Linked DNA regions of Homo sapiens: region 2 is linked to region 1. Evidence: fine-mapped expression QTL. A gene starts in region 1. The other region holds a variant in brackets. All regions are shown on one strand. Distances are between the middles of the regions. Region 1 holds the start of GFOD2 (Gfo/Idh/MocA-like oxidoreductase domain containing 2). Region 2 overlaps RANBP10 (RAN binding protein 10).

The links.
Region 2: its variant is fine-mapped to the expression of GFOD2 in sun-exposed skin (GTEx, PIP 0.97). The same link has a PIP of 0.9 or more in unexposed skin.

What each region holds. Positions count from the first base shown.
Region 1 is chr16:67,712,919-67,725,281 of GRCh38, reverse strand. GFOD2 (Gfo/Idh/MocA-like oxidoreductase domain containing 2) reads left to right here and starts at 5,966. Exons shown (of 3, transcript NM_030819.4): 1 at 5,966-6,119. RANBP10 (RAN binding protein 10) reads left to right here. Exons shown (of 14, transcript NM_020850.3): 14 at 1-2,212. RefSeq lists silencers at 6,049-6,098, 6,159-6,208 and an enhancer at 6,569-6,648.
Region 2 is chr16:67,776,480-67,788,842 of GRCh38, reverse strand. The region is part of intron 2 of RANBP10 (RAN binding protein 10); the gene reads left to right. Among named protein-coding and RNA genes, the nearest start is that of RANBP10, 24 kb to the left of the region's middle. RefSeq lists an enhancer at 7,234-7,383. The variant T/C (reference allele first, on the strand shown) is at 4,492.

The DNA.
Region 1 (12,363 bases):
TTCTTGGGCTGCTACTCCAGGGAGTGGATGGAATCCTTGGTCCCCTAGGCCAGACTTCACTGCCACTGTGCCAGACAGCTCCCTGCAGCTGGGCCCTAGCCACTCTTAGGAAAGACTATTGGGAGTATTTGCTGGCCAGAGAATGGGACTCTATCAGCTTTACACATGTCCCACCAGCTGTTTCAGATAGATCCTTACAGCTGGCAGAGTAAAAGTGGTCCCGCTACCATTGGGGAATCAGGAAAGGAAAGACTGAGATGGTTGCCAGGACTTGGGGTGGCCCACCTGTGGAGAGGACTGGCTGCCCTGGAGGAGGAAAGGGAGGAAGTCTACACAGAGGAGCACCAGGACGGCTGGAATTTCCATATGTGCTTCACATTGTGAGGGGAGTGCACAAGCCGCCCATGCAAAGAGTAGGGTCAGCCATGGCAAGGCCGGAAGTTGAACTTTCAGTCCCTGCCTGAATCTGGGCTTTGCAAGCTCCTGCTCCATATTGGTGGACATGGGAATGGTTGGTGTGGCCTGAGATACCCATTGCTCACCAGGCCTCACTGGGCCCACAGCTGGGCAACAAGAAAAATGTTTGAATTGGACCAACTGCTGGTGATGGGGCCAGGGCCCTGGGCCCTGTGCTGTCAGAATTCTGCCTTGGGAAATGATCCTATAGCTGCTGCTTTTTCTTGGTCCTTGGGGCTGGCAGACCCATAGACCATGGCCTGTTAGGAGGCGTCCTGTCTGTAAAGGAAATTCATCTCTTGTGACAGCCTGGGGCTACCTAGCTCCCAAACCCAGAAGTTGGAGACATCAGGCTGTTTAAATGATCATAGCCTAGCAGGATTGGATTAAAACCACAGGCTTTTGCAGCTGGAATGGGGTTCAGTGAACATCTCCCCCATTCCTCTCTTGCTACAAATAAGGAAACAGGCCCAGGAGATTAAGTGACTTGGCTAAAGTCACATAGCAAATTAGTAGCAGAGCCGGGACTATCCCTTATCCCTGTGGGTTGGGCAACACTATTTAGTCCTGAAACCGAATGGCAGATAAACCCCATGAGGGGTCAGGCTGATGTGCCCTCCAGCAGTATCTGAGAAGCTGCTACCTTCAGGGGTGTGTCAGGGATGAGGACGGGTGCCTGAGCTTAGGTTGTGGAGTGGCTGAGAGGGCCCAGGAGGGCTCGGGACAGCTGTGTGCTGCATGGGGTTGGGTGTCTGCCTGGCTCGCACTTGGTACCCATGGCCACCTCCCCATTTTCTGTGCCTTATCTCACTGTTTCAGCTGAGTCCAAGTTGTTTACTCTGTTCCTCTCCAGAGGGGCTCTCTGTCCCAGTTGGGCAGCTCACCTTTGGGACATAAGCCTTTGCCCCACAAGCTGTGGAGAGGGCCAAAACCAAGCTGCTTGAGCCCACTCTCTTGCTGAGAGTCCAGGCCTGCCTGCCTGCCAGCCAGAGGTGCCCCTTATGCACATCCAGTCCTACCAGCCTGCTTCCAGGAGCCTAGAGTGGGAAAGGCACCTGGGGGAGCCCTGGTGAAGGGCTGGACCTGACCCATGGAGGCAGGAGGAAGACCTGGCTTTCTTGGTTTGTCCGGCCCTGGGGAGCAGCCTTCCCTACTCACTTTCCCCTTGCGGCACCAAATGGTCACTCCTTCCAGAGCAAAAACTGGCACTCATAGCAAGCCAGAACCCCCATCCCCATCCTCATGGGTCTGTGGCTGGGTGCAGGCCATCAAAATGGACACCACGAGACAGAAGTGGGGACTGCCTGGCCACCTAGCGCCTTCCCACTCCTTAAGCAAGCACAAAGAAGATGAGGCAGAGAATTGTCAGAGCTGAAAGTTCCTTTGGTTGCTCACAACTCAGGTATGCACCCATGTGGCAGCCAGGCAGCGGAGCCCTACTAGACTGCCAGTCTCATGCACCCAGACCTGTGGCCAGATTGTGGCCTCTGGCTGCCTCAGGCATTTTCCTCTTTGCATTGGGTTTTCCTGCATTAGTAACTACAGCTGCAACAGACATCCTCCACATTGTGCACACTGGTTTTGCCTTTGTCCTCAAGAGTTGATACTTGGCATTAGCATGAAACTTGTGGGTGTGGGAGGATGGAGAGAGAACTCTAACACAAAACATCTTATTAAAATTGTACTTGAGAGACAAAAAAAAAACTCTGTTGTATTTTGACAGAATTATTTTTATTAAAATACACATCCATGAGCAGTCATGTGTGTCTGGTCTCTGTTTTGAGTCTTACTGAGGTTGGCACCCCTTCTGTGACACATCCTGTCCTAAAGGATTTGGGCCCTTCCCAGCCTCTCAAGTGCCCAGGCCCTCAGGTGCCTTCTTCAAGGACCTTTGAAACTGTGTATTTGTAAGACCCCAAAGAGGACAGGTACTTAAACCTCAGTTCTCTCTTGAAACGGCTTTCTTCTTATACAAGGAAAAAGTAGCAAATTCAACTAAAGAGCCTGGGCACAGTGGCTCACGCCTATAATCTCAGCACGTTGGGAGGCTGAGGCAGGTGGATCCCTTGAGCTCAGGAGTTCGAGAACAGCCTGGGCAACATGGCAAAACCCCATCTCTACAAAAAATACAAAAATTAGCTGGGCATGGGGGCGCATTCCTGTGGTCCCAGCTATTCAGGAGGCTGAGGTGGGAGGATCACTCGAGCCCAGGAGGTCAAGGCTGCAGTGAGTTGAGATCATACCACTGCACTCCGGTCTGGGTGACAGAGTGAGACCCTGTCTCAAAAAAAAAAAAAAAAAAAATTCAACTAAATAAAGGTGGGCCACAGGAACTTTTCCCCACAAAAATAAGGTATTAAGAATACATTTCAGAGCCAGGTGCAGTGGCTCACCCTGTAATCCCAGCACTTTGGGAGGCCAAGGCAGGCAGATCACCTGAGGTCAGGAGTTTGAGACCAGCCTAGCCAACATGGTGAAACCCCGTCTCTACTAAAAGTACAAAAATTAGCCAGGCGTGGTGGCGGGCGCCTGTAATCCCAGCTACTAGGGAGGCTGAGGCAGGAGAATCGCTTGAACCTGGGAGGCAGAGATTTCAGTGAGCCAAGATCACACCATTGCACTCCAACCTGGGTGACGAGTGAAACTCCATCTCAAAAACAACAACAACAACAACAAAAACATTCCAGGGCCAGGTGCATTGGCTCACGCCTGTAATCCCAGCACTTTGGGAGGCCAAGGCAAGAGGATCGCTTGACCCCAGGAATTCGAGGCCAATCTGGGCAACATAGACCCTGCCTCTACAAAAAATAGAAAAAATTAGCTGGACATGTTGGTGTCTGCCTGTGGTTCCAGCTTCTCAGGAGGCTGAGGCTGGAGGATTGCTTGAGCCTGGGTGGTTGAGGTTGCAGTGAGCCATGATTGCGCCACTGCACTCCAGCCTGGATGACAGAGCAAGGCCCTGCCTAAAAAAATAAAAAATAAAATTCCAAATATGCTCGCCTCAAATACTGCACAGTCAGAAAGTTTTCTGGGGGTACCTCTTTTGAGAGTTTGTTTTTGGGTTTTTTTTTTTTTTTTTTTTTTTTGAGACAAAGTCTTGCTCTCTCTCCCAGGCTGGAGTGCAGTAGCATGATTATGGCTCACTGCTACCTCAACCTCCCAGGCTCAAGTGATCCTCCCACCTCAGCCTCCCAAGTTGCTAAAACTACAGGTATGTGTCACCATGCCTGGCTAAGTTTTGTATATTTTATAGAGAAGTTTCACCATGTTGGCCAGGCTGGTCTCGAACTCCTGGTCTCAAGCAATCCTCCTGCCTTGGCCTCCCAAAGTACTAGGATTACAGGCGTGAGCCACGGCACCCAGCCTGACGGGTATTGAAATTAGCTTCCTGTCTCTTGCCTGAGGAGCAAGAGCTTGTTTCAAAATCCTCGCACCGTTTACTGTGTTAACATGGAAAGTTAACCTCTTTCTCCGAGACTGTTTCCCCATCCTTAAAACATGGTAAATCCTTCTGCCCCGTGGAGGTAGAGGATTATGGCAGATATACAGCAGTGTTTGGCACACAGGGATACACACAGTACACATGAGCATCCTTCCTCCATGAGGATGCCCAGTGGTGTGACTGGCCCACTCCTGCCTGCCCTGTCCCCGAGGCACCAGGGTTTTATGCAGAGGAGGGATACGGTAGATCATGCTGGTGTCCACCTGAAGGTGGTACTGGAGACAAATTGGAGCAAAAGAACCCAGGTAGGAGGCTGCAAAGAGGGCAGGTTTGAGAAAGATTTAGGAGAGAATTGGAGGTACAAGATGAATAACTGAATGTGAGGGAAATAGGAGAAGCAAGAGACAAGGCAAATGCAGACTTTGGTTGGGGGTGATGGGATGGATAATAGTACCACAAAATAACACAGAACAGAAGGGGGCAGGCAGTGGCTAAAAGTCACTGGAATTGGGAGGTTTGCCAGTAAATTAGGGGAGGTTTGCCAGTAAAAAAGTCACTGGAATTGGGAGGTGGTCCAGTAAATTAGGAAAACTGTCTTATGGATGTTCACAGTGATCGCCACCAGCTAATTAAAAGCTCAATCCTGTGTTAAAATGTGTTGCTTAACCCTGCACTTTCCAAACTTAAGTTACTACAGACTGTGTCACTCAGCAGAATCTTACAGGACTATTACTCTATAGAATGCTCTTAGGGAAGAGGTAGCATAAAGGGGAAAATATGGGTTTTAGATTAAGCATAAAGTCCTGGTTCTATATAAGTAAAGCCAGAGTAGGCTCATTTCCCCCTAGACTAGTGGTTCTCAACTGGGAATGATTTTGCTCCCAGGGAGACACTTGGCAATGTCTGGAGATATTTTTGGTAGTCACAACTGGGCTTGGGGTGCTACTGGCATCTACTGGGTAGAGCCAGGGATGCTGCCAAACATCCTACAATGCAGACAGCTCCCCCCACCCCTGCCCAACAAAGAATTATCAGGTCCAAAATGTCAATAGTGCCACTGTTGAGAAATCCTACTCAAGAAGAGTGGAACTCCGAACAATGACTAAGAAACAGATCAAACAGGCACATTTTGACTCTGCCTTCCTTCTGCCTGGCTCTAGAGGATCCAGGAGAGAAAGGATAAAATCCCATCAGAAGAGGGGGGGTTTAGGGGTTACAACTTCTCATCACTTTGGAAGCCTTCCATGCTCCTCACAGAGGTGGTAGGAGTCCTGTCTCCGCTCAAAGCAGGGATAGCTCTGCTGCTAGTTAGCATATCTCAGTAGGAACTGCCTCACGCTTAGGTCAGCTGACATATTCTGTCACCACAGGCTGCTCTGGAATGATGGCTGGGAGATCATCCTAATGCCAGCTGAGTGGGGATCTTGATACTCAGCAGGAGGGTCAGACAAGCAGGGACGGGGGCTCCCCATGCAGATACAAACCCCAATCACATTTCCTACACAGGCAGTTTTATTCTAAGGTCTAACGGCTTCCTTACTCTAGCGGATAGTTTGCTATTTGGTGGGGCATAGGCTTCAGTAAAGAGGCCAAGGGGACTGAGGTTACAGTCTTGAAGAGCACTGATATTTAAGGAACAATCAAAAAACATCCAGAGGAAGAGGAGCCCAGACAGGCACCTGAGAAAACGGAAAAACGAGTCACTGGGGGTCAGGGAGCCAGGAAGTCCGACGAGTTCGAGAGAACTGGCCTTCTGCAGATATGTCCTTGTCCAACACGAAACCGTCTTTCATTCCAGGACAACTGAGGCTACCCACAGCTACCAAAACCTGGTCCCTGACGCCGGTCAGCGGACCGGAGAGAAGCCAAGCTTAGGAAACTGCCGCCTCCGCCGCCGGAAATGAATAACCTGAGCCTCCTAGCCAGGCTGCTTAAGCTCCGCCCCCAAAAAGCGAGCATGCGCAGCTCCCGGCTACGGCCCCTCCCAGCGCAGGCCCATCCCCGTTATGGAGCATGCGCAGTCCTCCTGCCGTCCCGCCCCTCCCTTTCCAGAGCCCCCAGTTCCTTAGAAACCAGGCGGCGCGTTCCCGGTGGCGGCGCCCTGGACTCCCGGGCCCGCGCATCCCCGCCAGCCTTCCTTAAGGCGGATGGGTGGCCCCCGAGACCCCGTCGGACCCATGGTTTCCAGTGCAGCGCGGAGTGGGCGATGCCAGCGTGCCAGGTGAGAGGCGGCCACCGGTGGCGGGTGAGGGCGAAAGAGGGCATGGCGCGGCCGGGAGCGGGCGCCGACAGGGCCTTCTCCGCGGCCCGGCGCCGGAGGTTGGAGGCGTGGACCCGCAGAGCCGGGGTTGGAGGGGGCTTGTTCCAACTGCCTGCAGGCGCGTGGAGTGGAGGGTCGCCTTGGGATTCGCCCTTTCCACCGCAGAAATAGGACCCGCAGGCTTGGTGGTAGAATTATAGGATTTGGGATCCTGGAAGAACCTGAGACATAACCCATCCTTTTACCAGATGCAAAAACCTAGTCTCCCCCGCCCTGTGCCGAGCGGACCACCTGACTGTGTGAGGATGGACGCTTTGTGGATGAGGATGTGTGAGGTGTAGAAGCTCAGACAAAGGGCTCGTGGGGTAGCTGGTTCGTCCCCTTTCAGAATGAGATGGGACTTTTGGGGATAAATCTTTAAGAAACGGGTGTTCAGTTGACAGGTGGAAGAAGGGACACCCCAGAAGGTGCGAGTGGCTCTGCCAGCTCCCATGTGCCCTATGGCCACGTCTCAATGGCCCTGGCCTACCTTTGTATTTGTAGCTCTGGAAGGAAGCAGATGGACTTGAGACAAAAGGTGAAGTGAGGTCTTCCCATCAAGGCCCTATCACACTTAAAAGGTGAGGGAGGAAGAGTGGACAGGGACATGAGGGCTTGGGAATGGTTGTGTGAAGAGTTTACCCTCCAGACTACAGCACGATCTAAAGAACAAGGCAGGATAGAAGAGTTGAAAGCTGTATTGGATAGGCATCAGGGAAGCTTATTTAACTGTCTTATTTATGTTCATTGTTCCCATAATGTTATCCTGAGGGCAAGAAAGTGGATGTCCTTTTAAATGTCCAGAAAGAACTAGGGCAGGGCACCACCTTTGTGATCTGTGGGGCCCAAAAGCCTCTAAAGGAATAGCCCTTAGTGTGTGGCCCTTAAGTTGAAGGGAACAGCATTTAATTTAGAAAAGGAAGGCACTTAAATTTATTGTGATATGGAGCAATATAGAGAAGATGGTTGTTTTTGAGTCGGGGAAGCTAGATTCATTCTTGATAAGGAAACTTATTTCCTTCTGGAAAGCTACACTAGAGAACAAAAGAGTTTTAAGGCCATCCATTTTACAGGAAACGTGAAAAAATTAACTGCTTTGGGATTGGGAGTTTAGAGAACCTGCCTGGACCAAGAGAGGAAATTTTCAACAGACGGTTCTGTTGGTCGAATCCTTATTTCACAGATAAAGATTCTGTTGTGAGAGGTTATCTCTTACCACCTGGTTTTCCCACTTTGCCATGGAATAATCATTGGTCTGGGTCTAATTCTCTATCTATCTATCTATCTATCTATCGAGACGGAGTCTCACTCTGTCACCCAGACTGGAGTGCAGTGGTGCGATCTCGGCTCACTGCAATCTCCGCCTCCCAGGTTCAAGCGATTCTCTGGCCTCAACCTCCTGAGTAGCTGGGACTACAGGCATGTACCACCACGCCCAGCTAATTTTTGTATGTTTAGTAGAGAAGGGGTTTCACCATGTTGGCCAGGCTGGTCTTGAACTCCTGACCTCAGATGATCTGCCTGCCTTGGCCTCCCAAAGTGCTGGGATAACAGGTGTGAGCCACCACACCCAGCCCTCATTATTATTTTTATTTGCTAGGGCAATTGCTATCTGATTTCTATAGTAATACTAGAACACATTGGTAGTAGAACTAGCAATTTTTTAGAAAGCCTCCTCTGACCCAAAACTTAAAAATTAGAACTATGTGATTTTTAAAAGATGGTCCCTGATTCTAATCATCAAAGTCAGTTTGTCCCTAGCTTGATAAAAACTAATTTTCTATTTACATTTGACTTTGCAGCAGGTTTTTCCCCTTGCCCTTATAAGAAGATACATTGGAAGTATAATAATGTTAACAGGTGAAATCAGTTTAAAGAAGAAAGCTTTGGGCCGGGCGCAGTAGCTCATGCCTGTAATCCTAGCACTTTGAGAGACCAAGGTGGGTGGATCACCTGAGGTCAGGAGTTTGAGACCAGCCTCACCAACATAATGAAACCCCGTCTCTACTAAAAATACAAAATTATCGGGGCATGGTGGTGCACGCCTGTAATCCCAGCTACTTGGGAGGCTGAGGCAGGAGAATCGCTTGAACCTGGGAGGCAAAATTTGCAGTGAGTCGAGATCGCGCCATTGCACTCCAGCCTGGACAAGAGCTAAACTCTGTTTCAAAAAACAAAAAAAGAAGAAGAAAACTTTGTCTTGGCTTCATAATTCAGCATCATACCATAACTATGGGTATTGTGACTGTGCTTTTTACCAACTTTTCTTGCACCTGTGGGGTTATTTTGTATAAATACCTCAGGAGTTATAATGGGGCATTATCAAAAGCAAATGTAACCTCTGGGGAAAATCAGTACTGTTAACCAAATTCTGTCAGAAAGGCTTCATGAAAATCATTGTGTTCTGTGCAGAAACCTTCATTACTTTCACGTTGACCCAGAGGAAGGTAAGACAAGTAGGCCAAAATCAAGTCAAGGTAAAATGGAAGGGAGCAGTTGCCACCTGTGGAACTGGATGGACTGTGGGAGGGTGTTTTGAACGTGGGCACAAATACTTTGAATGAGCTTTTGGAGAGGGTACTGCTTAAATACGGCTGTGGTGTGACCTGTGGATTTGTGTGAGTTTTCTGAACTCCAATCAGAAAAACACTTGTTTTCAGAGAAAGGTAGACTTACAGAGGACTCTCAAAAGTCCTGGTTGCTATGACAGTGAAACCTTTGACAAATAATTACTTAACTTCTATGCCATTTTCTGGAGCAGCTGAGGGCAGTTATCATATCTGGCCTGTAATAAAGTAATCAACAGTGTTTGACAGGCCAACCATGAGGAAACCCTACCAGATAAACCAGCAATGCTAATAGAAGCTACTTTCACTGAACTGATTTTCTAGTTTTCCCATAAGAGGAGAAATGGAATGGGGATGCAATGTCATCTGATGTTAGAAGTTGAAATGCAGAGGTCGGTGTTCAGAAAACACAGGATCAGAGAGACCACTAACTTAGAAATAGGAAAAGTGCCTTTCTGATGCCTGAAAAGTCACTCATGCATATTTATTTTTAAATGTTTATTCATTTTTGAGACAGGGTCTTGCTCTGTCACCAAGCCTGGAGTACAGTGGCGTGATCACAGCTCACTGCAGCCTCTGACTCCTGGGCTCAAGTGATCCTCCCACCTCAGCCTCCTGAGTAGCTGGGACCACAGGTGCATGCCACCATAGACAGCTAATAAAACAAGTTTTTTTTTTTTTTGTAGAGATGGGGGTCTCTATAACAGGGGGTCCAATTCTAGAACAAATCCACAATTGGAATTAGAGTACATCTAGGAAAGAATGGAATTGGAGATTTTGCTATTTTTGAGAACTTATATACAGTATAGTAATGGAACATTATCTTTCTTGCATTCAAAAGTAGTAGATTTATATTAGCAAACTTAAAAGCAAACTGAAATTTGGAGTCTAAAAGTCCTTATTACTTGAAAATTTAAATGGCAGGTGTTTTAAAAAGTGAGAATGAAAGACACTTGAAAAGCTTGGGTTCATGAAAGTTAGAATGGTAGGAGATACTGAGAAAAACATGAAAGCAGGAAGAATTCCCTACACTCTAACACCTCCTTATAAATTAGACATTGGGTTGGGAATGAGCTCACTGAAGTACCTTGTCTTCAAAGACAAAAAAAAATTTTCTCTCATGGTGATGTGAATAAACACTTAGAAAATATGGATTAGAGCCAGGCGCGGTGGCTCATGCCTGTAATCCCAGCACTCTGGGAGGCTGAGGCAGGTGGATCGCCTGAGGTCAGGAGTTGGAGACCAGCCTGGCCGACATAGTGAAACCCCGTCTGTACTAAAAATACAAAAAATTAGCTGGGTGTGATGGCGGGTCCCTGTAATCCTAGCTACTAGGGAGGCTGAGGCGGGAGAATTGCTTGAACTCGGGAGGCAGAGGTTGCAGTAAGCCAAGATCGTGCCATTGCACTCTAGCCTGGGCAACAAGAGCGAAAGTACGTCTCAAAAAAAAAAAGAAAGAAAATATGGATTAAACATTAAGAAGGAAGAATCGAATATTTCCATGTTACTTAGTACCCTTGAACCCTGTCCTTAAGCACTTGTTTGCTAGCTCCTGCTCTTAGAAAGGAATTGCAAGTAGTGTTTTTGTCCAAGGTACTGTCATTTCTCAAGGTAGCCAGTGATAAAATGTATATACTCTTTGGGACCCTGGATAGTCCTGAAATTCGTGGGAACATAGCTCACTCTCTCTGCCACCTTTCTAAGTCATTCCCAAGAGCTTCTGTAAAGATTTCTATCAGTCCTCTATAATCAAGGATTTGGAATGAAGACTGTGAAAAATGGGAACTGAGTACTTAGTGTGGTCTTCCTTTCTGGCCTGGGATAACTGTGCTACTCTCAAATTGTCAGCTCTCAATTTCTCATGAGAATAGATAACCCCAAAATAGAACCCAAAACACTTCTACTTGGCTTTGAGATTTTACTGTATCACTTTATAACCTCAAAATCTTTATTATTTACTTTCATAATTGTATTTTACTTAGGATGATAACCTTAGGCAAATCGTGTAATTTCTGGATCGTAATTTTTTTTTTTTTTTTTTTTTGAGACAGTGTTTCTATCTCCCAGGCTGGAGTGTAGTGGCACAATCCCGGCTCACTGCAATGTCCACTTCTGGGTTCAAGCGATTCTTGTGCCTCAGCCTCCCGAGTAGCTGGGATTACAGGTGTGCGCCTTCATGCCTGGCTAATTTTTGTATTTTTAGTAGAGATGGGGTTTCGTCATGTTGGCCAGGCTGGTCTTGAACTCCTGGCCTCAGTGATCGGCTCACCTCAGCCTCCCAAAGTGCTGGGATTACAGTTGGGAGTGACCCTGCCTGGCCTCTGGACCATAATTTCTTAACCTGTATAACAGGAAGCAAAATGAAAATGTCATAAATGTGTAACACTAGAGAATGAAAAGCTAGTTCATACGGTCAGTGGCTGTGATATTGTGAAATACATATTTGGTCTTCTGTCTCTGTTTCCTGGCATGCAATTTCAATAGGTTGGTGCAAAAGCAATTGCAGATTTTGCCGCAAAGTAATGGCAAAAACCGCAGTTGCTTTTGCACCAACCAAATCCCTGGAATCTCCTGAGTGATGGTTTTTTGTATGCTAATGAGTTAACTGGTGGCTGGCAGCTCCTGGGTAGTTTCAGGCTGGGGACTGGTCATAGGAAACATCAAAGCATGATTAGAGGGTTGTGACTTTCAGCCCCACTCTGCAACCTCTGGGGAGGAGAGTGGGACTGAAGGTTAAGTTGATCGTCAATGGCCAGTGGTTTAATCAATCATGCCTAGTTAATGAAGCCTCCATAAACACAGGGAGGGCATGAAAGCTCCAAGCCCCTTCCCCCATACCTTGCCCTATGCACCTTCTTCATCTCTATCCTTTGTAATATTCTTTATAATAAACCAGTAAATATAAGTAAGTGTTTCCCAGAGTTCTGTGAGCTGCTCTAGCAAATTAGTTGATCTGAAGGAGGGAGTCATAGGATCTCCAGTCTGTAGCCCATCAGGCAGAGGCACAGTTGAAACAACCTGGGGCTTTTGATGGCATTGGAAGTCGGGAAGGGGAAGTCTGTGGGACTGAGCCCTCTACCTGGGGGATCTGATGCGATTCTCCAGGTAGATATCGTCAGAATTGAATTGAAGGACACCAGCAGGTGTTGACTGCAGAATTGCTTGCTTGCTTGGTGTGTGGGGAGAAACCCCCACACATTTGGTCTTCTGTGTTGATTATTGTGGTGTGAAAGCAGAGGAAAAACAATTTGAATTTGTCTTTCCACTTTCACAATGACATACCTGTTATGTAACCCATAAAACTATTTATGATAACATGAAAGATGCTTATGTCTGGCCAGTGTGGCGGCTCACGCCTGTAATCCCAGTACTTTCGGAGGCCGAGGTGGGCGGATCACTTGAGGCCAGGAGTTCAAGACCAGCCTGACCAAGATGGCGAAACCCTGTCTCTATAAAAAATAAAAAAAATTAGCTGGGTGTGGTGGTGCATGCCTGTAGTCCCAGCTACTCAGGAGGCTGAGGCAGGAAAATCACTTGAACTTGAGCGCCCAGCAGAGGCGCTCCTCACATCCCAGACAGGGCGGCGGGGCAGAGGTGCT
Region 2 (12,363 bases), 64 kb before region 1:
TTTTCAGTAGAGATGGAGTTCACCATGTTGGCCAGGCTGGTCTCGAACTCCTGACCTCAAGAGATCTGCCCGTCTCGGCCTCCCAAAGTGCTGGAATTATAGGTGTGAGCCACTGTGCGCGTCCTGCCTGACTAATTTAAAAAAAAATTTTGGGGGCAGGAGCGGTGGCTCATGCCTGTAATCCCAGCACTTTGGGAGGCCAAGGCAGGCAGATCACGAGGTCAGGAGATCAAGACCATCCTGGTTATATGTTGAAACACCGTCTTTACTAAAAATACAAAAAAAAGGGCTGGGCGCGCTGGCTCACGCTGTAATCCCAGCACTTTGGGAGGCCGAGGCGGGTGGATCACGAGGTCAGGAGATCGAGACCATCCTGGCTAACATGGTGAAACCCCCTCTCTACTAAAAAAATACAACAAAAAATTAGCCGGGCATGGTGGCGGGCGCCTATAGTCCCAGCTACTCGAGAGGCTGAGGCAGGAGAATGGTGTGAACCTGGGAGGCGGAGCTTGCATTGAGCCGAGATCGCACCACTGCACTCCAGCCTGGGCGACAGAGCAAGACTCTGTCTCAAAAGAAAAAAAAATTTGTAGAGGCCAGGCGTGGCTCTACAGGCTGACAGAGTGAGACTCTATCTCAATCAATCAATCAGTCAGTCAATCAAAGTTCCAGCTACTTGAGAGGCTGAAGCAAGAGGATTGCTTGAGCTCAGGACTACAGGCTCACGCCTGTAATCCCAGCACTTTGGGAGGCTGAGGCGGGTGGATCATGAGGTCAAGAGATCAAGACCATCCTGGACAACATGGTGAAACCCAGTCTCTACTAAAAATAAAAAAATTAGCTGAGTGTGTTGGCATGTGCCTGTAGTCACAGCTACTCGGGAGGCTGAAGCTGGAGAATCACTTGAGCCCAGGAGGTGGAGGTTGCAGTGAGCCAAGATCGCACCACTGCACTCCAACCTGGGCAACAGGCGAGACTCCATCTCAAAAAAAAATTTTTTTTTTTCTAGAGACAGAATCTCGCTATGTTACCCAGGCTGGTCTTGACACCGGGCCTCAAGTGATCCTCTTGCCTCAGCCTCCCAACGTGCTGGGATTACAGGCATGTGCCACCATACCCAGCCTAGAACTTCATTCCTTTTTATGGCTGAATAATATTCTGTTGTACTTATATATACATCACATTTTGTTTATCCATTCTTCTGTTGATGGACGCTTAGGTTGCTTTCACCTTTTGGTTATTGTGAATAATGCTGCAGCAAACATTGGTGTACATAGTGTTTGAGTTCCTATTTTCAGTTCTTTTGGGTGTTCACCTAAGAATGGTATTGCTGGGTCATATGATAATTTTTATTTAACTTTTTTGGGTAACTACCGAACTTTTCCATAGTGGCTGCACCATTTTACATCCCCACCAGCAGTGTGTGAAGGCTCCAATTTCTTTACATCCTTGCCAACATTTATTTTATTTCTTTCTTCATTTTTTTATTTTTTAAAGCCTTGCTGTCTTGCCTAGTCTGGTCTTGAACTCCTGAGCTCAAGCAATCCTCTTGCTTCAGCCTCTCAAGTAGCTGGAACTTTGATTGATTGATTGATTGATTGATTGAGATAGAGTCTCACTCTGTCACCCAGGCTAGAGTGCACTGGCGCTATCTCAGCTCATTGGAACTTTTGCCTCCCGGGTTCAAGTGATTCTCCCACCTCAGCCTCCTGAGTAGCTGAGATCACAGGCATGTGCCACCACGCCTGGCTAATTTTTGTATTTTTAGTAGAGACAGGGTTTCACCATGTTGGCCAGGTTGGTCTCAAACTCCTGACCTCAAGTAATCTGCCTGCCTTGGCCTCCCAAAGTGCTGGAATTACAGGTGTGAGCCACCATGCCTGGCCTATTTATTCTATTTTTTCGTTGTTGTTTTTGAGATGGAGTCTAGCTCTATCCCCCAGGCTGGAGTGCAATGGCTTGATCTGGGCTCACTTCAACCACCACCTCCCTGGTTCAAGTGATTCTCATGTCTCAGCCTCCTGAGTAGCTGGAATAACAGGTGTGTACCACTACGCCTGGCTGATTTTTGTATTTTTAGTAGAGACAGGTTTCACCAAGTTGGCCAGGCTGTCCTCGAACTCCTGACCTTAACTGATCTGCCCGCCTCGGCCTCCCAAAGTGCTGAAATTTCAGGCGTGAGCCACTGCACTTGACCTGGAACTTTTAAATTATAGCTATTCTAGGTATGAAGTGGTAACTCATTGTGGTTTTGATTTGCATTTCCTAATGACTAGTGATGTTGAGGATCTTGTTATGTGCTTATTGTATGTGGCTATCTGTATAGATTCTTTGGAGAAATGTCTGTTCAAGTCCTTTGCCTGTTTGGGTTGTTTGTCTTTCTGTTGTTGAGTTATAGGAATTCTTTATTTTTGATATTAAACCCTTATCAGATCTATGATTTGCAAATACTTTTTCCTATTCCATTGATTGTCTTTTCACTCTCTTATTTTTTATTTTTATTTTTATTTTTTTCAGATGGATTTTTGCTCTGTCGCACAGGCTGGAGTGCAGTGGTGCAATCTTGGCTCACTGCAGACTTAACCTCCTGGGCTCAAGTGATCCTTCCACCTCAGCATCCCAAGTAGCTGGGACTACAGGTGCATGCCACCATGACTGGCTAAATTTTAAATTTTTTGTAGAGATGGGGTCTTGCCATGTTGCCTAGGCTGGTCTTGAACTCCTGGGCTCAAGCAGTCCTCCTGCCTCCACAGCCTCCCAAAGCACTGGTATTACAGATGTGAGCTACCATGCCTGGCCTCTTGATGATGTCTTTTTTTTTTTTTAATTATTATTATTTTTTTTGAGATGGAGTCTCGCTCTGATCTCCGCTCACTGCAAGCTCCGCCTCCCAAGTTAACGCCATTCTCCTGCCTCAGCCTCCCGAGTAGCTGGGACTACAGGCGCCTGCCACCATGCTCGGCTAATTTTTTGTATTTTTAGTAGAGACGGGGTTTCACCGTTTTAGCCAGGATGGTCTCGATCTCCTGACCTTGTGATCCACCACCTTGGCTTCCCAAAGTGTTGGGATTATAGGCGTGAGCCACTGTGCCTGGCTTTTTTTTTTTTTTTGAGATGGAGTCTCACTCACTCTGTTTCCTAGGCAGGAGTGCAGTGGTGTGATCTCAGCTCACTGCAACCTTTGCCTCCCGGGTTCAAGTGATTCTCCTGCCTCAGCCTCCTGAGTAGCTGGAATTACAGGCATGGACCACCATACCTGGCTAATTTTTGTATTTTTAGTGGAGACGGGGTTTTGCCATGTCGACCAGGCTGGTCTCGAACACCTGACCTCAAGTGGTCCGCCTGCCTCAGCCTCTCAAAGTGCTGGGATTATAGGCATGAGCCCCGATGATGTCTTTTGATGCACAGAAGTTTTAATATTAATTAAGTCCAATTCATGTATTTTTCTTTTTGTTCATCCTTTTTGTATCATCTCTAAATCCATTGTGAAATCAAAGGTCATGAAGATTTACCCTTACGCTTTCTTCTAAGAATTTTATGGTTTTGGCTCTTTCCTTTTTATTTTAGTTTTTCCCTTCCTTCCCTCCCTCCCTTCTTTCTTTCTTTCTTTTTTATTTATTTATTTATTTTTGAGACCGACTCTCGATCTGTCACCCAGGATGGAATGCAGTGGCACGATCTCGGCTCACTGCAACCTCCTCTTCCAGGGTTCCAGTGATTCTCCTGCCTCAGCCTCCCGAGTAGCTAGGATTATAGGCACCTGCCACCACGCCTGGCTACTTTTTTTGTATTTTTAGTAGAGATGGGGTTTCACCATGTTGGCCAGGTTGGTCTCAAACTTCTGACCTCAGGTGATCTGCCCGCCTCGGCCTCCCAAAGTGCTGGGATTACAGGCGTGAGCCACCGCACCCAGCCTATTTTTTTTTTTTTAAGTGCTACTGGGCCAGTGCCAGATTTTTGGCCCAGGGCCTTACCTCTTATATTTAGATCATTTTCTTTTCTTTTCTTTTTCTTTTTTTTTTTTAGATGGAGTTTCGCTCTTGTCACCCAGGCTGGAGTGCAATGGCTCAATCTCGGCTTACTGCAACCTCCGCCTCCCGGGTTCAAGCGATTTTCCTGCCTCAGCCTCCCGAGTAGCCGGGATTACAGGCATACACCACCAAGCTAGGTTAATTTTTTTTTTTTTGGGATGGAGTTTCACTCTTGTGGCCCAGGCTGGAGCGCAATGACTCGATCTTGGCTCACCGCAACCTTCACCTCCCAGGTCCAAATGATTCTCCTGCCTCAGCCTCCAGAGTAGCTGGGATTAGAGGCATGGGCCACCACGCCCGGCTAATTTTGTATTTTTAGTAGAGACGGGGTTTCTCCATGTTGGTCAGGCTGGTCTCAAACTCCCAACCTCAGGTGATCCTCCCGCCTTGGCCTCCCAAAGTGCTGGGATTACAGGCGTGAGCCACCAGGCCTGGCCTAATTTTGTATTTTTAGTAGAGA[T/C]AGGGTTTCACCATGTTGGTCAGGCTGGTTTCAAACTCCTGACCTCAAATGATCCACCCGCCTTGGGCTCCCAAAATACTGGAATTAACAAGCGTGAGCCACCTCTCCCGGCCTCCACCTGATTTTCTTATGTTGAACCATCCTTGCCTTTCTGGGATAAATCCCATTAGGTTGTGGTATATAATCCTTTTAATACACTGTTGGATTTGGTCTGCTACTATTCTATTAAGGATTTTTGCATCTATATTCATCTATATTGCTCTATAACTTTCTTTTCCTTTGATGTCTTTTTTTTTTTTTTTTTTTTGAGACGGAGTCTCTCTCTCTGTCACTCAGGCTGGAGTGCAGTGGCGCCATCTTGGCTCACTGCAACCTCCACCTTCCAGGTTCAAACACTTCTCTGCCTCAGTCTCCCGAGTAGCTGGGATTATAGACACCCGTCAGCACGCCCGGCTAATTTTTTTGTATTTTTAGTAGAGATGGGGTTTTACCATCTTGGCTAGGCTGGTCTTGAACTCCTGACCTTGTGATCCACCTGCCTTGGCCTCCCAAAGTGCTGGGATTATAGGCGTGAGCCACCGCACTCAGCCTGATGTCTTCTTAGTGGCTTTTTGATTGCTGTTCCAGGGTCTTCCTCATCTTGGGTTTGCATCTGGGCACTGCACATTTACAATGTGCACAGACATTTTTCTGTGAAGAATTGAAGTCTAGGTCAAAGCTGGGAAGGAGCTTAGGAGCCTTTGGTTTAACCTTTCCTCCTCTAATAAGGAACCTGATATGTGGGTTGAAATCTAAGACCCATAGTCTTGAATTAGGCTGGAGTGTCTGAGACCAGCCTTTTAGAGTCAAGGGTGTTGTGTTTGGAGCCCTGCTGTGAAGTGTTCTTGTCACCTCAGAACTCTTCAGGAGGCAGGAGGGGAAGTCAGACTTGTTGCCAAAGGGGTTCTCTGTGCAGGGTTCTCAAACTTGTTATCAGGACTGGGTGGTAGAGTACAGTAAAGGGGTCGTCTCCTTCCCGTGGCCTTGTACATATCTGGGAGGTGTGAGAGTCAGGTGGCCCTGGTTTCTAAAGTTCTGTCCTCTGTCCACCACCAGGCCTGCCTGGGTCGCAGAAGAAACTCTAGTCAGTTGGAGCTGTGCCAAATCTGTCTCACTGCAGCAGGGTCTCCTGCGTGTGTGCTCTGTGCCCAGCTTGGGACATACTAGGTGCCATGTGAGCCGGAACCTCAGGGCCTCTGCTCAGCAAGGATTTTGACTGTTTCTGAAGCTGTACTGTTGTGATGCAGCCTCTGCCCTTCTGTCAAGACTCGGGGTGCTAGGTGGACCAAGGAGCTGACTGTGAAAGCCACGTTCCCTAATGTGTCCCCCATCACTGAAATGTCCTGGGGTGATCCAGAGAGAGTCTGATGAGTGAGAGCCAAAAACCTCTGCAGTATGTAGCCATTACTCTTAAAAGTGGCTTTTAAGAGATGGCTCTTAAAAGTGGCTTTTAAGAGATGGCTCTTAAAAGTGGCTTTTAAGAGATGGCTCTTAAAAGTGGCTTTTAAGAGATGGCTCTTAAAAGTGGCTTTTAAGAGATGGCTCTTAAAAGTGATTTTTGGCCCAGCACGGTGGCTTATGCCTGTAATCCCAGCACTTTGGGAAGCCGAGCTGGGCGGATTACATGAGGTCAGGAGTTGACCAGCCTGGCCAACATATAGTGAAACCCCATCTCTACTGAAAAATACAAAAATTAGCTGGGTGTGGTAGCGCACGCCTTGTAGTCCCAGCTACTTGGGAAGTTGATGCAGGAGAATTGCCTGAACCTGGGAGGCAGAGGTTGCAGTGAGCCAAGATCGCGGCACTGCACTCCAGCCTGGGTGACAGAGCAAGACTTCGTCTCTAAAAAAATAATAAAATAAAATAAAATATAAAATAAAATAATTGGCTGGGTACGGTGGCTCACACTTGTAATCCAAGCATTTTGGGAGGCCAAGGCAGGCTGATCGCTTGAGCTCAGGGGTTCAAGACTAGCCTAGGCAACAGGGCAAATCCCCATCTCTAAACTACCCAGGTGTGGTGGCACTCACCTATGGTCCCAGCTATTCAGGGGGCTGATGTGGGAGGATGGCTTGAGCCTGGGAGGCAGAGGTTGCAGTGAGCAAGGTCTCACCATTGCACTCCAGCTTGGGAGACAGAGTGAGACCCTGTCTCAAATAAAAACTAAAAATAGAAATTAAAATTTAAAAATTGTAAAAAGTAATTTGTGTTAGTTGTAGAAAATCTGGAAAAGCAAAGAGAAAAAGGAATCCAAGAGGACTGGACTGTGCTTGCAGCTCTCCACATGACTGCAGGGTTTCAGCAGACTTGAGCTCGGGTGGCAGGGCTGGGTGGACCCCCTTGCTCGGGTGGCAGCATGGACCCCCTGCCAGTTGCAGTGGATAGTGGGAGCTTCTGGGTGGATTTGTGAGTGTGGACACCTGTGGGCCTTTGCTGCCTGCTTCCAGGTGCGGTTGCTTCTTCTCTATCTTGTGTTCTGGTGGATCTCGACTCCACTTGTCCCAAGCAGTGCCTATTTGCTGCCCTCTTCTCTCTTGAGCTAGATAGGGCAGAATAGCTGTTCTCGTATCTCCACCTTGCATTGTGGTTTTGGCAGGCAACGGTAGGAACTGAGAAGTTACAGGCCTACTCATGGCCTCACTGCCACGAAGAGCTTGTCTGTTGCCTCTCTGTGCTTCCTGTCTCACCTCTCTGGCATGATATTTCTTCTCCACTTTGCTGCCATATAGAAGAAAGGAGTAAATCAGATGGCTTTACCTTACTTTCACCTGTGTCATAGCGTAAATAATTCCCTCTCCCCAGCTCCTGAAATATATCCTGCAGTTAGAAAAGAAGGCCCTGGTAGAGAAGTGTTGGGAGCTAAGCTGCTCTATCTATTCTAGTCACCTGCTCCGGGAGTAAAAGCCCTTGTTGCCGCCCTCCCTCCCAGGCTGACCCAGGCAGGTTGTATCTGTGAGTGTTTCTAGCATAGCCTGGCCCATTACCAACAAGGAAGCAAATATTCACCTCCTTTCTCCTTGGTAATCTCAAGTAAACAGGTGTTTGTTTTAGATGTCCTGAGATCCAGGCCTTCCAGAATGGCCTCATTTCCTTACCAGATCCTGATGCTGGAAGATCCTCCAGTGTATGAATGAATGGACAAAGTGGGGTTGTCCCATCATCCACCTTCAGCCTCCGGCACTGCGCTCAGGTGCTCGTTTGTCTGATCCTGTTGAATGGCTGCTTTGGGGGCTCTCCAGCCTCAAGGTAATAGCTGATAAAGCAGGCTCTGAGAGCACATGGGACATGCCAGTGGGCATGTGTTGAACTCAGTGGCAGAGGTGAGATTGGAGTCTAGGATTGTAAACTGTGTTTGCTCCTTGGAGCTGTGTTCTGAGATGTGTGTGCGTGGCATCAATGCCAGGGCTAGAGAGCACAGCTGGAGAATGGCTGCTGCTAACTCTGACTGAGCACTTTGGCTCCAGTATTTCCAAGTGGGTCTCAGAGAATTGACCTTTCCTTGGTGCCTGGTTGTGCTGGGCAGTGTCTTGGGCTTCTCTAGCTCCTCCCCCACCCAATAAATTAACTGTGTTCTAAAGAGCACTTGCCTGTCTCCACATCATCCCACTGCTCCTGTCCCACCCTTGTCATCTTCCATGGGAATGACTCTGGAAGTGTCCAGTTTTGGTTCTTCAATCCATTTTTCAAATATCAGCTGTTTGATCAGCTGTACCCTTTCTTTTTTTTAGAGACAGAGGTGGTCTTGTTATGTTGTCTAGGCTGGTCTTGCACTCCTGGCTTCCAATGATCTTCCCGCCTTGGCCTCCCAAGTAGCTGGGATTATAGGCTGAAGCCACCATCCCCAGCTTAGCCCCTTCTGTGGCTTCCCATTTACCTCTCATGAAGTTCAGACTCCTTAAGCTAGCATGCAGGCTGTGCATGCACAGCCCATTTCCAGATCCAGCTGTCTGTCTTTCTAGGTCTGCCCAGACTGTAACCCAGTCATACTAAACTTCTCTTAGTTCCCCAACCACGTGGCTGCTTTCTTGCCTCTATGCCTTTTCACATTCTGCTGTGTTTTTTTGTTTGTTTGTTTGTTTTTTGAGACGGAGTCTAGCTTTGTTGCCAGGCTGGAGTGCAATGGCGCAATCTCGGCTCACTGCATTCTCCGCCTCCCGGGTTCAAGTGATTGTCCTGCCTCAGCCTCACGAGTAGCTGGGACTACAGGCACCCGCCACCACGCCCGGCTAATTTTTTTATTTTTAGTAGAGATGGGGTTTCACTATGTTGGCCAGGATAGTCTGGATCTCTTGACCTCGTGATCCACCTGCCTTGGCCTCCCAAAGTGCTGGGATTACTGGCGTGAGCCACCGTGCCTGGCCCACATTCTGCTGTTTTTGAGTGGACCATGATCCTCTTTCTCCTGTCATTTACTTTACCAGGCCTTGGCTCAGCCTTCACTTCCTGAGGGAATTCCCCATTTTGAGTCAGCACACCTTGACTCTCTGGCTTGCCCTGACTTGACATTAGAACTGTTGGAGGGCAAGGATTGAGCCCAGGCCCCCACCCTTATGTCCCCAGCATCATACTGGGTACAGGGCATTTTTGTTGATGACATGAATGACTGGAAGAACCTCTATGAAAAGAAATTTATCACACCTGTTTTTACTGAATTACTCAACGTTAGCAAGGACCCAAGAGCTCCTAATAACTCAGCCATATTCAGGTGCCTGCAGAGATCAATAGAGGAAGGGTAGTGTCAGTGGCCTCCTATGGGGATTCTTCCTGTTCCATAGATGCAAAGATACTGCAGTATGTGTACAGGAGAATGAGTTTGAGGTTTTTGTTATGCCCTTTCCTTATTTATTTTTGTCTCATTCTTGGCAGCTCAAAGGGTACAAAGTGGTATCTCGCTGTGTTTTTTTTTTTTTTTCTTTGAGACAAGGTCTGGCTCTGTCACCCAGGCTGGAGTGCAGTAGTGCCATCTCGGCTCACTGCAACCTCCACCCACCCCAGGCTCAAGCCATCCTCCCACCTCAGCCTCCTGAGTAGCTGGGACTACAGGTGTGCACTACCATGTCTGGTTAATTTTTGTATTTTTGGTGGAAACAGGGTTTCACCATTTTGCCCAGGCTGATCTCGAACTCCTGGTCTCAAACAATCAGCCCTCCTTGGCCTCCCAAAGTGCTGGGATTACAGGCATGAGCCACTGCGCCCAGACTATTTTTATTTTATTTTTATTTTGAGACAGTGTCTCACTTTGTCACCCAGGCTCTGGAGTGCAATGGCGGGAGGCACTGCAGCCTCAACTTCCTGGGCCTCAAGCTGTGCTCCCATCTCAGCCTCTCAAGTAGCTGAGACTACAGAAAAGCACCACCACGCCCAGCTGATTTTTATATTTTTTGTAGAGATGGGGTTTTGCCATGTTGCTCAGGCTGGTCTTGAACTCCTGAGCTCAAGCAGTCCATCTGCCTCGGCCTCCCAAAGTGCTAGGATTATAGGCATGAGCCACTGTGCCTGCCCTCACTGTAGTTTTGATTTGCATTTCCGTAACGATAGTGATGGTGAGCATCTTTTCAGGTGCTTGCTGGCCACATGTACACCTTCTTTAGGGAAACATCTCAAGGCCTTTGCCACTCTCATTTTTTAGAGATGGGGTTTTGCTGTGTCGCCCAGGCTAGTCCCAAACTCCTGGGCTCAAGCGATCCTCCTGCCTCAGCCTCCCACATTGCTGGAACTACAGGTGCACATCACCATTCCTAGCTAAAAGTTTTAAAGTTTGATGAAGTTTACTTTATCTATGTTTTCTCTTGTTGCCTGTGCTTTTGTCCAAGAAATTATTGCCAAATCCAATGTCATGAAGCTTGCTATGTCTTTTCCTGAGAGTTGAAGTTTTAGCTCTTATGATTAGGTCTTTGATCCATTTTGAGTTGATTTTTATATATGGTGTAATATAAGCAAAAAACTTCTTTTTTTTTTTATTTTAGACAGAGTTTCGCTCTTGGTGCCTGGGCTGGAGTGCAGTGGCGCGATCTTGGCTTACTGCAACCTCCGCCTCCTGGGTTCAAGCGATTCTCCTGCTTCAGCCTCTCAAGTAGCTGTGATTACAGGCATGCGCCACTATGCCCAGCTAGTTTTGTATTTTTAGTAGCGACGGGGTTTCTCCACATAGGTCAGGCTGGTCTTGAACTCCCGACCTCAGGTGATCCACCCACTTTGGCCTCCTGAAGTGCTGGGATTACAGGCGTGAGCCACCGCACCTGGCCAAACTTTGTTCTTTTGTTTGTGATTATCCAGATGTCCCAGCGTTATTTGTTGAAAAAACTGTCATTTCCCCATCTAATGGTCTTAGCATCCTTGTTGAAATCAGTTGACTATACATGTGAGGGTTTATTTCTGGGATCTCTATTCTATTCCTTGGACTGTAGGTCTGTCTTTATGCGAGTCTTAAACTGATTTATTATTGTAGCTTTGTAGTAAGTTTTGAAATCAGAAAGTGTAAGCCCTCCAACTTTGTTCTTTTTAAGATTGTTTTGACTGTTTCTGTCCCTTGAGATTCCATATGGATTTTTCTATTTCTGTGGAAAACATCATTGGGATTTTGATAGGGATGGCCTTGAATCTGTATATCACTTTGGGTAGTATTGACATCTTAACAATAGTGAGTCTTCTAATCAGTGAACAGAGGATGTCTTTCCATTTATTTGTGTCTGTAATTTCCTTCATCAACATTTTATAGTTTTTAGTGTCTTTAGCCTCCTTGGTTAAGTTTTTTTACTTTTTTTTTCGTTTTGTTTTGAGATGGAGTCTCGCTTTGTCGCCCAGGCTGGAGTGCAGTGGCGCGATCTCGGCTCACTGCAAGCTCAGCCTCCTGGGTTCACGCCATTCTCCTGCCTCAGCCTCCCCCGTAGCTGGGACTACAGGCCCCCGCCACCATGCCCGGCTAAATTTTTGTATTTTTAGTAGAGACGGGGTTTTACCATGTTAGTCAGGATGGTCTCAATCTCCTGACCTTGTGATCTGCCCGCCTCAGCCTCCCAAAGTGCTGGGATTATAGGCGTGAGCCACCGCGCCCAGCCTACTTTATTTACTTTTAAGTATTTTTTTTCTTTTTTTTGGGTGGGGGACGGAGTTTCGCTCTTGTACCCCAGGCTAGAGTGCAATGCTGCGGTATTGGCTCACTGCAACTTCCACCTCCCGGGTTCCTGCAATTCTCCTGCCTCAGCCTCCCGAATAGCTGGGATTACAGGCATGCACCACCACGCCCGGCTAATTTTTGTATTTTTAGTAGAGATGGGTTTTCACCATGTTGGTCAGGCTGGTCTTGAACTCCTGACCTCGTGATCCACCTGCCTCAGCCTCCTAAAGTGCTAGGATTACAGGCGTGAGCCACCGTGCCCAGCTTAAGTATTTTATTCTTTTGATGCTATTGGAAATGGAATTGTTTTCTCAATTTTTTTTTGATTGTTCATTATAAGTGTGTAGCAATACAACTGAAAAGTGAGAAATAGAGTAACTTATTAGTTCTTTTTTTTTTTCTTTTTCTTTTTCTTTTTTTTTTTGAGACAAAGTCTTGCTCTGTCACCCAGGCTGGAGTGCAGTGGCTCGATCTCAGCTTATTGCCACTTCTGCCCCCAGGTTCATGTGATTCTCCTGCCTTGGCCTCCCAAGTAGCTGGGATTACAGGTGCCCACCACCACGCCCGGCTAATTTTTGTATTTTTAACAGAGACAGGGTTTCACCATGTTGGCCAGGCTGATCTTGAACTCCTGACCTCAGGTGATCTGCCTGTCTTAGCTCCCAAAGTGCTGGGATTACAGGCATGAGCCACCACACCTGGCCAATTCTTTTTTT